2 linked regions of the Homo sapiens genome follow. The protein of the gene in region 2 interacts with the protein of the main gene of each other region in a biochemical or structural test. Each region holds a gene or a part of one and is shown on either strand. Other genes may lie near its edges. The genes, in order: ACACA and TRIB1.

Region 1 (7,179 bases), on a different chromosome or scaffold from region 2:
TCGAGACCATCCTGGCCAACATGGTGAAACCCGTGACTACTAAAAATGCAAAAATTAGCTGGCATGGCAGCGTGTGAATGTAATCCCAGCTACTCAGGAGGCTGAGGCAGGAGAATTGCTTGAACTCGGGAGGCAGGGGTTGCAGTGAGCCGAGATCAGCCACTGCACTCCAGCCTGGTGACAGAGCTAGACTCCATCTCTAAATCAATGAGTGAATGAATGAATCAATCAATCAACTAATATCACTCTATTTTCAATTCATGAAAATACCTCTAATTAGGGAATAGCCCCAGGAACAAAGCTATAAGGTATACATGATCCAAGTGTGCTTTTCTCATAACTACAGATACTTATCCTTCACATACAGTACTTTCACTGTTGGGTTTGTACCCTGAGGCAGTTTTGTGAGGAATACAATGCTTAAAAGTATACAAGCACAACATCCAAAAAGTAAGGAGGATCCAAATAGGAAGGAATCCTACAACATAAACTCTGGCATTGGTAGCCAGAAAAAAATATAGTGTTATCCTATAAATACCTGCTGGCTGGGAAACTGACAGAGGACTGATGTGATGTTGCTAGCATACTGAGCCATTTCCTTCTTGATAGACTTCTCCACATTGGGGGGAATGCGGCCAGACACACTGGTCATAATATCTTGCAATTCTAGGAGAGGCAGGGAGGGATCTCTGAGGGTTTTCATCAATCGCTCTACCCAGTCTTTTACCTAGAAAGAAAGCATTGGTAAAATAGGACCCAAGTTAACACAATCCCCCAAATAAAAAGATATATAGTTGTCATTCTGTATACGTGGGAAATTGGTTCCAGAACCACCACTCATATATGAAAATCTGCACATACTTGAGCCCTACGGAACCCATGTATAGAAATAGTTGTGGGTTCCATATCTCATCAATACTGTAATTTTGATCCATGTTTGGCTGAAAAAATCCACATATAAGTGGACCCACACAGTTCAAACCTGTATTGTTCAAGAGTCAACTATATCTGAATTCACTATCATATACTACTTCTTTTCAATAAAAATTTATATAATTTTCAATAGATATGGGGTCTTGCTATGTTGATCAGGCTGGTCTCAAACTCCTGGCCTCAAGCGATCTTTCCATCTCAGCTTCCCAAAGTGGTGAGATTACAGGCGTGAGCCAACTATCATAGAGTACTTTGAAATTGCAACGTAAGCATCTAACATTGCCCCTATTCTCCAGTTTAAAAAGGACTAATCACGGGCGGGCACAGTGGCTCACGCCTATAATCCCAGCACTTTGGGAGGCCGAGGCGGGCAGATCACAAAGTCAGGAGTTCAAGACCAGTCTGGCCAACGTGGTGAAACCCCACCTCTACTAAAAAAAAAAAAAAAAAATTAGCCGCGCCTGGTGGCACGTGCCTACAATCCCCACTACTCAGGAGGTTGAGGCAGGAGAATCACTTGAACCCAGGAGGTGGAGGTTGCAGTCAGCTGAGTTTGTGCCATTGCACTCCAGCCTGGGCAACAGAGCAAGACTCCGTCTCGAGGAAAAAAAAAAAGGAGTAATCACAATTAAATGTGAAGTCCATGACAAGGATAAGAAACATGGATTTAAAGACCTCAAGTCCCACAACTGAAGGTGAAAGAGTTCTAGGCCAAACAGCTTTCTTTTCCTCCCTCTTAAACAATCATTATGAGACTTGGAACTATTTTGGAGAATAGGTATCCCATTTGTACATCCCTTCCCCAGGAGACGTGATACATACCTTGCTGCTAAAGAAAGGATCTGGAAGGCAGTATCCATTCATTACATTGACCAGATTATCCAGGACATAATGGAACACTCGATGGAGTTTCTCGCCTCTGAGTGCCGTGCTCTGGATCCGTGGCAGACTACCTGTGTGAAGTTCAGCCTGTCAACCCCAACAAGAGATCAAGTCATCTACTACTTTTGATCTAAGGTACAAACACACCACTGCACTTAAGAGTTATCATTCAAAATCGAGACATCATACCCAGCTACCAGGAGGGAAGTCAATAGAGGAAACATCATAAGGAAATTACAGAATCTTAGTACTACAGTAACTCTTGCAAACTCTAGTTCCATAATACTACAGGCACAAATACAAGGCATAAGATTAATAGGGGACAAAGCTAAAGAAAACACTGGCAAACCAAGCATTGAAATCACTTGCCTCTCCAAACCACCAAGTTCTTTAGCTCTTAGAGAGCAATATTCGGAGCACCTTCCTACTCACCTGCTGAACCTTGCTGGGGTTGTCCAGTTGCATTTTGGCTAGTACACAGCCAGGGTCAAGAGCTGCTCCAGGTCGCTTGACGTAATGGATACAGCCAGACTCCACAGCTGTTAAGGTCATTACCATCTTCATTACCTATAGTGAAAAATAAACTAGACTCAGATTTATCTCTCTTTACACAGATGAGTGCTTAAAAGAACTAAAATTTTTCCCTTAGCATCTAAGTTGGACCACACCTAATTTGACCAAGAAAAAATGGGAATTTACCATCATCTCCTAGGGACTATCAAGGCAAGCAATTAGAAAATCTCTCAGTACCTCACTTTAGGAATTAATAACAGTTATTGACATTTCTCCTTTCTAACTTTTACAACCATTTTGGCATAATTTGTGATTATATTTGTTTTGTACTTAGAAAGTAAGGAACAATTTAATATCCTCATACCAGTGAATCCAATCTAAGACAACCAGGCCAAAACCTAAGGATCATTCTTCACTCCTCTTTCTCCCTTACCTACCAATTACCAACCCAGCCAGACATATCTTCTAAACCTTTCTCAAAAATCTTCCTCTCTTGCCAACTCTTCGGTTTACGCCTTCTTCATTTCTGGCCCAAAGTACTTCAAAGACCCCCTAAGAGATCTCCCTACTTGCTACATACCTCCCTCAAGGTCACGAAAAGCAATCTTCCTAGACCCCAAATCTCATCATACTACTTTTCCACTTAAATCTTTCAGAGATTACCTGCTGCCTCCAGGATAGTGAAAACTTACTAGTATGGTTTATAAGATCCTTCATAACCTCACATTCAAGATCTCACATTACTTCTTTAGCACCTTTGCTTGTCCCTCCCCATTAAACCTTAGTCTATTCTCAAGCCACACCAACACATACTTGCAGTTCCCTAAATACACTGTGCTGTCTTGCTTCTGTCTTTGTACATGCTATTCCTTCAACTTTAAGCACTCTTCCCTGCCCTTCTTCACCTGCTCTATCACTATCTGTCTTTCAAAACTAAGATCAAATGTCTCTTCTTTCAGAATATCTTCCCATACAAGCTTAGCTTGATTTGGGTTAGGTGACCCTCTGCACTCTATGCTTAGCTCTCTTAAAATTAATCACATGACATTTCTTGTCTGTTTTGTGCCCCACCTCCATGTATTTTCTCTGGATAGCCAGCAGTTAGGACACCTAACATTCAACAAGTGCTATTGCCTAGTATCTATTTTTAGAACTAGAGATTCCTCATTTGCCTATGTGTTTTAAAAATCTTAAGGTTCGCACTTCTAATTAAGCCAACTGATGTTTCTTTTTCATTCTTATTTCCAATCTGTTACCTTTTTTTTTAATTTTTTAGAAATAGGGTCTTGATTTGTGACGCAGGCCACAAATTGTACCACTCCAGTACAGTGGTACAATCTCCATTCACTGCTGCCTTGAATTCCTGGGCTCAAGGGATCCTCCCGCCTTAGACACCAGAGTGGCTGGGTCTACAGGCATGTGCCACTGTACGCCGCTAATTTTTTAATTTTTCATAGAGATGGGGTCTCACCATCTTGCCCAGGCTAGTCTCGAACTCCTGGGCTCAAGCGATCTTCCTGCCTCAGCCTCCCAAAGTGGTAGGATTACAGGCACAAGCCACTGTGCCCAGCCTCCTTTCTGTAACTTTTCAGTCCTAGTCCATCCCAGCCGACCCTTTTCCTACCTTCCCCTCCCATGATCCCACAGTCCTTTCACCACCCTGACCTCAATCTCAGCATAGCACTGGCCGGCAAACACATGACCTCCATCTTCTACAATGTACTGGATTAACTTCCCAGCAGAAGGTGAGCGCATCACCGATGGGTCATTTTCCTTCTCAAACACACAGGTTTTATTGCCAATTGTGATGCGATATCTAGGAGACAAGTGGAAGTATGTAAGCTAAGAAAGCACCTCAGGATGTAAAGGAGAATGGTAGAGAATGTCAACCTTCAAAGAAAAAAAATCCTGAAAACTTTATTATACACACACACAGACATATTCACTGCATATTTGTTTACAATGTCAATTAACATAAATTTCCTTCAATAAGGATCAGATTAAATATAGTATAATCATATAATGGAATACCACATGACTATTAAAAATAACAGGTACCACCATTTAAAAAAACACACACAAAGATATTGATGACGTAATAGCTAACATTTCTTGAAGCCTAGCTATGTTGTGGCAATGTTCTACACATTTTCAACATGTTAATTTATTTCATTCTCATAACACCATAACTGGTGTTGAACATTTGTGAATTTCTTTTTTTTTTGATACGGAGTTTTGCTCTTGTTGCCCAGACTGGAGTGCAATGGCGTGATCTCGGCTCACCGCAACCTCCACCTCCCAGGTTCACGTGATTCTCCTGCCTCTGCCTCCCAAGTAGCTGGGACTACAGGCATAAGCCACCACATCTGGTTAATTTTGTATTTTTAGTAGAGACAGGGTTTCACCACATTGGCCACACCGGTCTTGAACTCCCAGCCTCAGGTGATCCACCTGCCTCGGCCTCCCAAAGTGCTGGGATTACAGGCGTGAGCCACCGCGCCCAGCCACATTTGTGAATGTATTTAAAGAAAAACAGTATGTACATGAGTGTAACTTGTATATGCATATAAAATTTCTACTCAAATATGTAAGAAACTTTTAACAATGGTTACTTATAAAAAGGGGAACTTATTTTTCATTGTCCACATACACTGGAGTGGTAGGGAGACATGTTTTTAATTATAAACACTTTAATACTCTTGATATTTTTGTTAAGTGCATGTACTATTTTTTTTTTTTTTAACTACAAATGAGTACCAAGAAAAGCCTGGGAAAATCCCAAGAGCTAGTAGCTAATAAGAGAAAAGGCTAACAGGATGACCAGCAAATGGACCTCAAACAGCCACTTACCTATCCACTTCCTCTTTCATATACGTAGTATAACTGCTGCCATCATAGGACAAGAGCAGTCCACCGTCACTCAGCCGATGTACATCTACTTCTACACATGAGCCATTCATGATCACCACATAGGAGTTGGGGGACTGTCGAGTCACCTGTAGGGAATGAGAATGAGGATCAGTGTGTCCCTTCCAGGTACAGCTCCAAATGAAATTTGAATGCTTCAAAAATACAGATAAGAAAGATCTGTCAGGAGGAAGAAAATTCATGGCACTGATGCTATTTGCATCAGTGTCTGTGGACATGGCTCAGTCCTGCTGTAAGCAAAGAGGGCAACCTTAGTTGATTTTCCCCAACTGTGGTTGTTCTCTGTCTCTCCTTTATCTCTTGGCAGTGTATGTGAAGTTGAAGAACAACAAAAAAGATTTTCATAGAACAACAAACGCTGCTTCAGGACACTGACAAAAATAATGACGGTAATTTCACTAATACCCCCATCCCTGCATTAAATCAAACTTTTTCTCCTGCCTCTCAACCTAAAGAAAGATAGCTAAAAAAGTAAGGTGCAAGCTCCAATGGGGTTCTGCATACCTTAAGTACATACTTGACTCCCTCATAGATAAGTTCAACATCTACTGTATTCAGAAGTGTATGAGCAGGAAGGACTTGACCCCTGAAAGAACGATGAGAGAGGAACTTACTACAAAGTTCTAACAGTTATAAGAGAATCTAAAACATTATTGATTGTAGCATTTCCTAGAATAACAAAAGACTAGAAACAACCTAAATACCTAAATGATCGTTTGTAAGGAATTGATCACATCAATTATGAATCTTACAATGGATTTTTTTAAATTAGGGTAAAATACACATTACATTAAATTTGCCATCTTAACCATTACAAAATGCACAGTTCTATAGTGTTGGGGATATTAACACTATTCTGCAACCAATCTGCAGGACTTTTTCAACTGGCAAAAGTGAAACTCTACACCCATTAACAACTCCCAATTTCGCCCTCCCCCCAGTTCCTGGTAACCGTCATTCTACTTTCTAGTTCTATGAGTCTGACTACTCTTCATACTTCATATAAGTAAAACCATATAGTATTTGTCTTTTTGTGACAGGCTTAATTCACTTGCCCTAATGTCCTTAAGATCCACCTATGTTTTAGCATGTGTCAGAATTTCCTTCTTCTTTAAGGCTGAATAATACTGTATTGTATGTATATGCCACATTTTGTTTATCCAGTCATCCATCAACCAACATCTGAGTTGCTCCCATCTTTTAGCTACTGTGAATAATCCTCCTATGAATGTGGCTGTGCAAGTATCTTTCAGACCCTGCTTTCAATTCTTTCAGAATACCCAGAAGTGGTATTACCAGATCATAGGGTAATTCTATTTTTAATTTTTTCAGTAATTGCAATACCATTTTTCAATAGTGGCTGCATCATTTTACATTCCCATCAAGAGTGCACAAGTGTCCCAATTTCTCTACGTACTTGCCAATACTTGCTATTTTCTGTTTTTTGACAGTGGGCATCCTAATGGGTGTGAGGTGGTATCTCATCATGGTTTTGATTTTATTTACTTAATGATTAGTGATGTTGCGCATGTTTTCACATGTGGAACAAAACATACAGACATTAAAAAGATGTGAACTAAAAAACACTTTAAAAAATATACTGTTGAGTTAAAAAAGCAAGGTAAATAACAGCTTCACAGCATGCTACCATTTGAGTTTTAAAAAACCAGGAGGTGGGAAGAAACAAATATTGCATGTTGATATGGTTCGGCTGTGTTCCCACTCAAATCTCATCTTGAACTGTAGCTCCCATAATTCTCTTGTGGTGTGGGACGGACCCAGTGGGAGATACTTGAATCATGGGGGCGGTTCCCCCATACTGTTCTCATGGTAGTGAATAAGTCTCACGAGAGCTGATCATTTTATAAGGGGAAACCCCTTTCACTTGGCTCTCATTTTCTCTCTTGGCTGCCACCACGAAAG
Region 2 (5,725 bases):
AATTAAGTCTAATGAAGAGGGATTGGTTCACAATCGGAAGTCCCATGATGCCTTCAGAGATCTGTGTGAACCTCTGCAATGATAACAAAATTTTGTTTTATACATGTGACACTGTTCTCAGGAGTGGTCATAGCTTTATCAAATTCTCAAGGGTCCACGGCCCAAAAAAGACAAGCTGATTTTTACAACTCAAGGTTAATTTATGAATGCTCACCTTCAAACGTTTCTTGATTCTGATTCTGCTATGAAAGAGTATAAAAAATAAAAAATGTTTCCCGAGTCTAAATTCAACCCAAAGCACGTATCAACACCCAATGGGCTTCATCCATCAAAATAAATTTGCCCACTGAAATGAGAAAAGCAAATGGGTTCAAGTCTGCCAAAGGTCATCGATGATCCTCATCATCTCTACTTTTCCACCTTCCCCTTGCTGCTCACCCCCAACTAGACTGTAAGTCCTGAGGCCAGAGACCTTTGCAACCTCTGCATGAAATTGCAAAAGGCAAAGCAGATGGAACTCGAAAGAAATTCACCACACCTATTTACGAAACCAGGTTTATTAAAATTTCTCTACAAGTCAGAAACGGCCATCTCACTGTTCACATATATACACGTATGTACAGGAAGAACCTAGTGTTTCTAGCTTTCCCGGCAGAAGGCCCTGCCAGCCCAGAGTCCTTAGTCGGATAATGTATCACAGATACAACAGTCGAGCAACCACGAGAGCGTTAGTGCGACAGAGGCCTCTGTCCTCCCTCTTCTCAAAGTCCCATGATTCTGTCAAGGTAATATTGCCAATAATCATTCACATTTCACGTGGTTTTAGACACGCAGGTTATTCAGACAGACACAGACAACAAAACAAGCCTCAAAGCCAGAACAAAACAAAACAAAACAAAATCGAACATAGGTATAAAAGGTAAAATATATGTACAAAGTACACAGTACGTGAGGTATACACGGCATTCTCACAATGCATGTTAGTAGTTTGCCTAGGCATAGCCCTTAAAGATGACTGCCTGTTTTTGTGCCATTTCTCAAAATACAGTATATTTTGTTTACCCGTTTAACCACCTGATTTCAGCACTGTCCAAGACAGTTACTGATATTTCATCTGAATTTGTTTTTTAATGAAAGTTGCAATTTCTCCATTAAGCTCCATCTTTTGTAGGGGAGTGAGTTTCCATCTCTGGACATATCTAACAGAGGCTGGATTCCCACCTACAAAAGAAGCTGAAGAGGGGATTTCTGCCTTGGGAGGTGGCAGAAAGAGGAAAGAGATTGGACCGGATGATTTTTAAAGTTCCTTCCAACTTTGAAGATTTGGGGTTTGCTGTTTCACTCCAGAAGCCGATTATACAGACGTATTCATAAACCACACATTTGAAATATTAACAACCCACCATGCAAAACTGCAGATGTACACACAATGCCAAAGGCGGACCATATCTGGGAGGGGTTAAAGTATAATTCTGGAAGTTAGTCTGAGAATCACAAGACTATCCAAAATTCACTCTCTTCAAAGCACAAAGATGTTTAATGTCTGCTCTTGGGAGAGGTGGGTGGGAGCCTCCTTATCTTTCTTCTCTTAGACAGAATGCTCCACCCTGAGATGGTCTTGGGGAAAAAGTAAAGGGTAGGTACTAACATATTTGGAAGGAACTTAAAAAGCTAATAGTTTCCAAGCACTCAAATTATTTTTTAAAATCTGGAGTCTCTCTGAGCTCAGAGTTCTGAAATCGTTGGGAGATGGAATCTTTTGTGATACTGTTCCACGTTCGGCTGGTAAGTGCTTTTATAGCTAAAGGGGGAAGTGTCAAGGTCAGGGAGAAGGCATTAGTGCAGATGAGGTCTTGGCAGGAAACAGAGAAGAGTCTCGGTTCATGGTTCCATCAGGCTCCTGAGCAACTTAAAACAGTCTGCTCCAAAAACGGAGCAGAGTCATTGGTAAATGTGAGTGTGAAGAAAGGGTGAGTGTTAAGCCAAAAAAGGAACTTTCCCATCAGAGAAGCTGCCGTAGCAGTCTAGCCACCAAAGATGAGTTCAAAGATGGCAGATTTATTGGCCCAATTTGTCACCCTGTGAAAAATACGGTTATTACTCAAAATATGTCATTGTGCGATTTGCTTTTTCTCCCATTCGAATGCTCAAGTTTATTACACACTTGACCACCGGGTGTAAGATGTCCATACTCTGCCCTCCACAAAAGATGCGGAACTCCCAAATCCAGCAGAGATAGTTGGTGAGGGTTCCTTAAGGGAAACAAATTTGCAGGGCAGCCAATCACAGCATATGCTGCTCAAATCAATAAAGTCACTCATCCCAACAGAGAAGAGGAGGCGCCATGCCGAGTTCAGCAGCTTTCATCCTGATGCAGTCATTATCTGGTTGGTACCACGCCAAAGGGCCTGTCCATCTTTAGAAATGGAAATGCCAGGTGTTAAGAATTATGAGGTTTCTGAGGTTTTGGGGATTAGCAGAAGAAGGAACTAATGTCACTGTCCTCCTGGTACTCTGGAACAATCTGGTCTGAAGTTCCTATTTCTGAGTCGATGTACCCGGGTTCCAAGACGGACTCAAACCAGGGGTGCAGTAGGATCTCGGGGGCAGTGAGTCTCTCGGAGGGCTCCCGTCTCAAGAGGCTGCGAATGAGGCACCTGGCTTTGGGGGAAATGTGCTCAGGAATGCAGAACTGTCCACGCCGAATTTTGGAGAAAAGGGCACTGGGGTCTGAGTCATGGAAGGGGTATCGTCCAACCAGAAGGGTGTAGAGCATCACCCCCAGGCTCCAAACGTCCGCAGCCTTTCCGGAGTAGGTCCCAGTGGTGTTGAGGATCTCAGGGCTCACGTAGGCTGGGCAGCCATGTTTGTCTGACAAAGCATCATCTTCCCCCTTCATTATGTGTGTGTCTTCTAGACTTTCTAGTCTAAGCTGGGTTCTGCAAGAGAGAGGAACCAAGCCATTATTTCCACACCAGCTGCTATGAAAAACAAAGCCTTCCCAATAACAGCGCCCACAGGCACTAACAGCAAAGGCTCCAGGAATGCTATTTACCCCTTCGTCCAGTAAGCAGTGCCCTGCAACTACCGAGGGCTCCTGATTTCACAAACTAACACGAACTGCAATAAATGTTTGCAAAGTATCGGCAGAGCGCCTGGGGTGGAGGGTATGAGGCAAAGCCCCAAATAGTATTCATAATGCTGGAGCTTACAAGAGATATCCTAATAGGAGTTACGCAATTTACTAAGTTCCCATTGCAGAACTGGGAGCCTGTCTCAGAATGCTGCATTCTCTACAAAAGCTAGCAGGGAAGAGCAGCATATCCTACTTCTTCAGAGAGGGCCTGAGCATCCTACGAACCCATCTTCCCTCTTATGACTGCCAGGGCTACCTGGACCCACACTGCATTACAGAACACGGAGCCCAAAGTCACTGCTATTACACACAGGTCATCAGCGCTGGTGCCCACACTGATACATGCACACAGAGCAAACTTTGTCCTCCTGGGCCCAGGCTGCAACAATTAGGATGGGAAAGTTGCAAGGAATGTTAATTACATTTATTGGGGTGTTTAACTGCAAAGAACACTTTGCCTGGACAGAGAGGTTATGCGAGCAAACAAAAGTGGCTGATGGATTTCAGGGACGCAGGGACCCTGAAATTCTTACACAGGGACACACACTCCCCCTGGGATGGCACATCAACATGTGAGCATATGTATTCTACAGGGGGGGTCTCTGTTCAGGTAACAACGAAAGTCTAAAACACCTTCAGTCAAAGGCTCTCTTATGAAGCTGCAGGTGCCTCCTTATTCAGAACCAGCCACCCAAGTCTCCTGGATCCCCCAAAGCTCAAAGCCATGTGGTGGGGAAGCTCTGATATCCAGTGACACCCTGTCTCTGCCTGCTTCTCTGAAATACCCGTTTCAGTAAGTCACTTGTGAAGTTAAATGCAAACATTTGGTACTGGCTGATGGGTCAATTCCTTTTCCTCTCAAAGGTCTGTTTTTTTTTTTTTCTGCCTTCCTGTTCCCTGGAGTGTAGTATACATGTGCTAACTTCAGTATGTCCTCAGCGTGACCTCCCTGTCGTTATGTAAAATACCCATTGGTTCTGTAAACGGAAAATATGACTCAACCCACACTGTCTGCCCCTGATTGGCTGCTACAGCACTAAAACCCTGCACCTGTGCTGGTTACACGAATAGCGTCAGCCTGACATTGCTTAACCCCCGGGTTGCCAAACCCCATGCCCATGATATTCGCCTGTGCAATGCAGATTTCAAAAGCTAGTAAGGAGGTGTGTAAGGCATGTTTCAGAAAATGCATCACCATATCAAAGGAGCATGTTCCAGGAATTAGAAACTTCTTCATTGCCAACAGTTTGCTTTTCTTTGCTAATCAGTGTGTTCCAATAATTATTGCGAGGTCAGATACAAAGTCATGCTTTATGACAGCTCAACCCTGTACTGTTTCATATGCTCTGGAGTCAAAGGTAAAAATGCACAGGTGAGATAAGCCCACTTCTTACAACAAACTAACTCACTCTCACCTCTACAATGTTACAGCCTTACTGCTTGTAATCTTTCCACAAGGGATGTGGCTGGCTCTTAAAATCAAGTGTGGTCTATCTCATGCGGCTTCCTGAATTCTCTAGCTGAAACCTCAGCTTTGAATCTTAATGCCTCATTACTCTCTTATCAAGCTCATCTTGTTCTTTATGAGGTAAGCTATGATCTATATTTAGCAATCCATCCTAACCAACTTCCATTTACTATTCAATGTGGCTATTTTCTGAAGACGGATCCAAACAAGCTGTCTAAAAAGTCACCAGAGAATGTGATGTTACAGAGAACCTGGACTGGGATGGGAGAGGAATGCTGTGTGAAACAAGAGGGTGGAATTCTGCATATATGACAGTCTCACTAGCTCTGTGAAACCTTCCAGGTACAAAACAGCACTTGGCATAAGCAAAGATTTGAACACTTCCTTCAGAAGGCAATATCGTAAAGGGCAGTTTAATATTTGTACCCCAGACAACTGACCTTTCTGACAACAATGGGGAATGAACCTGATCCTGGGGTAGGAGAGGAAGAGCACCCTGTCAACACTTGCCATCCCATAGAAGCGCCACGGTGTCCCCAGGCCCCGTCCAAGAGAATGCAGAATAAACCAACCTTGGCTGTGACTCCTCAGGAACAGAAGCTCTAAATACTAAATCTGGGACATATGAGCCCTTGACTTTGTTTTGCACCAACACACAGCACCTAACTACATGACCTGCACCTCCGCTTTGGTTCCAAAAGGCCACAGGAGAAGCTGTGGCGGCCGCTCACCTCTCCTCCGTGGAGAAGACGAACTTCCTAAGCTTCAGGTCCCCCAGCACGATGGCTGACTGGTGGCAGTGGGCGACGGCGGAGACAATCTGCTTGAAGAGCCGGGCGGCTTCCTCTTCCCGCAGCCTCTTCCGGCTTCGCACATAGGAGTGCATGTCCCCAAAGTCCTTCTCAAAGAAGACATAGGCCTTGGTTTCCCCAAGGATCACTTCCACAATGCCAGTAATGTTGCTGTGCGATGGCAGCTGGATGTAAGGCCTGATTTTGTCCTGGTAGTGTTTAATGGGAAACACCTGTAGAGAGAAGGGGGGCCCGTTTAGGGGGCTAGAAAAGCAAAGGCAGCCTCCCAAACCCCTGAGGGAGCTGAACAGAAGTTCTCAACCTGTGGGC

Evidence for each region.
Region 1: the proteins of TRIB1 (region 2) and ACACA form a complex in vitro, tested with the Homo sapiens proteins (one study listed by BioGRID).

What each region holds. Positions count from the first base shown.
Region 1 is NC_000017.11:37,242,833-37,250,011, forward strand, and holds part of ACACA (acetyl-CoA carboxylase 1), read right to left. Parts: intron 5,843-7,179; coding exon 5,761-5,842; intron 5,325-5,760; coding exon 5,179-5,324; intron 4,145-5,178; coding exon 3,994-4,144; intron 2,383-3,993; coding exon 2,248-2,382; intron 2,144-2,247; exon of another isoform or gene 1,969-2,143; intron 1,903-1,968; coding exon 1,756-1,902; intron 728-1,755; coding exon 539-727; intron 1-538. UniProt on the Homo sapiens protein: Cytosolic enzyme that catalyzes the carboxylation of acetyl-CoA to malonyl-CoA, the first and rate-limiting step of de novo fatty acid biosynthesis.
Region 2 is NC_000008.11:125,433,220-125,438,944, reverse strand, and holds the end of TRIB1 (tribbles homolog 1), read right to left. Parts: intron 5,629-5,725; coding exon 5,336-5,628; intron 2,940-5,335; coding exon 2,474-2,939; 3' UTR 542-2,473; downstream 1-541. UniProt on the Homo sapiens protein: Adapter protein involved in protein degradation by interacting with COP1 ubiquitin ligase. The COP1-binding motif is masked by autoinhibitory interactions with the protein kinase domain.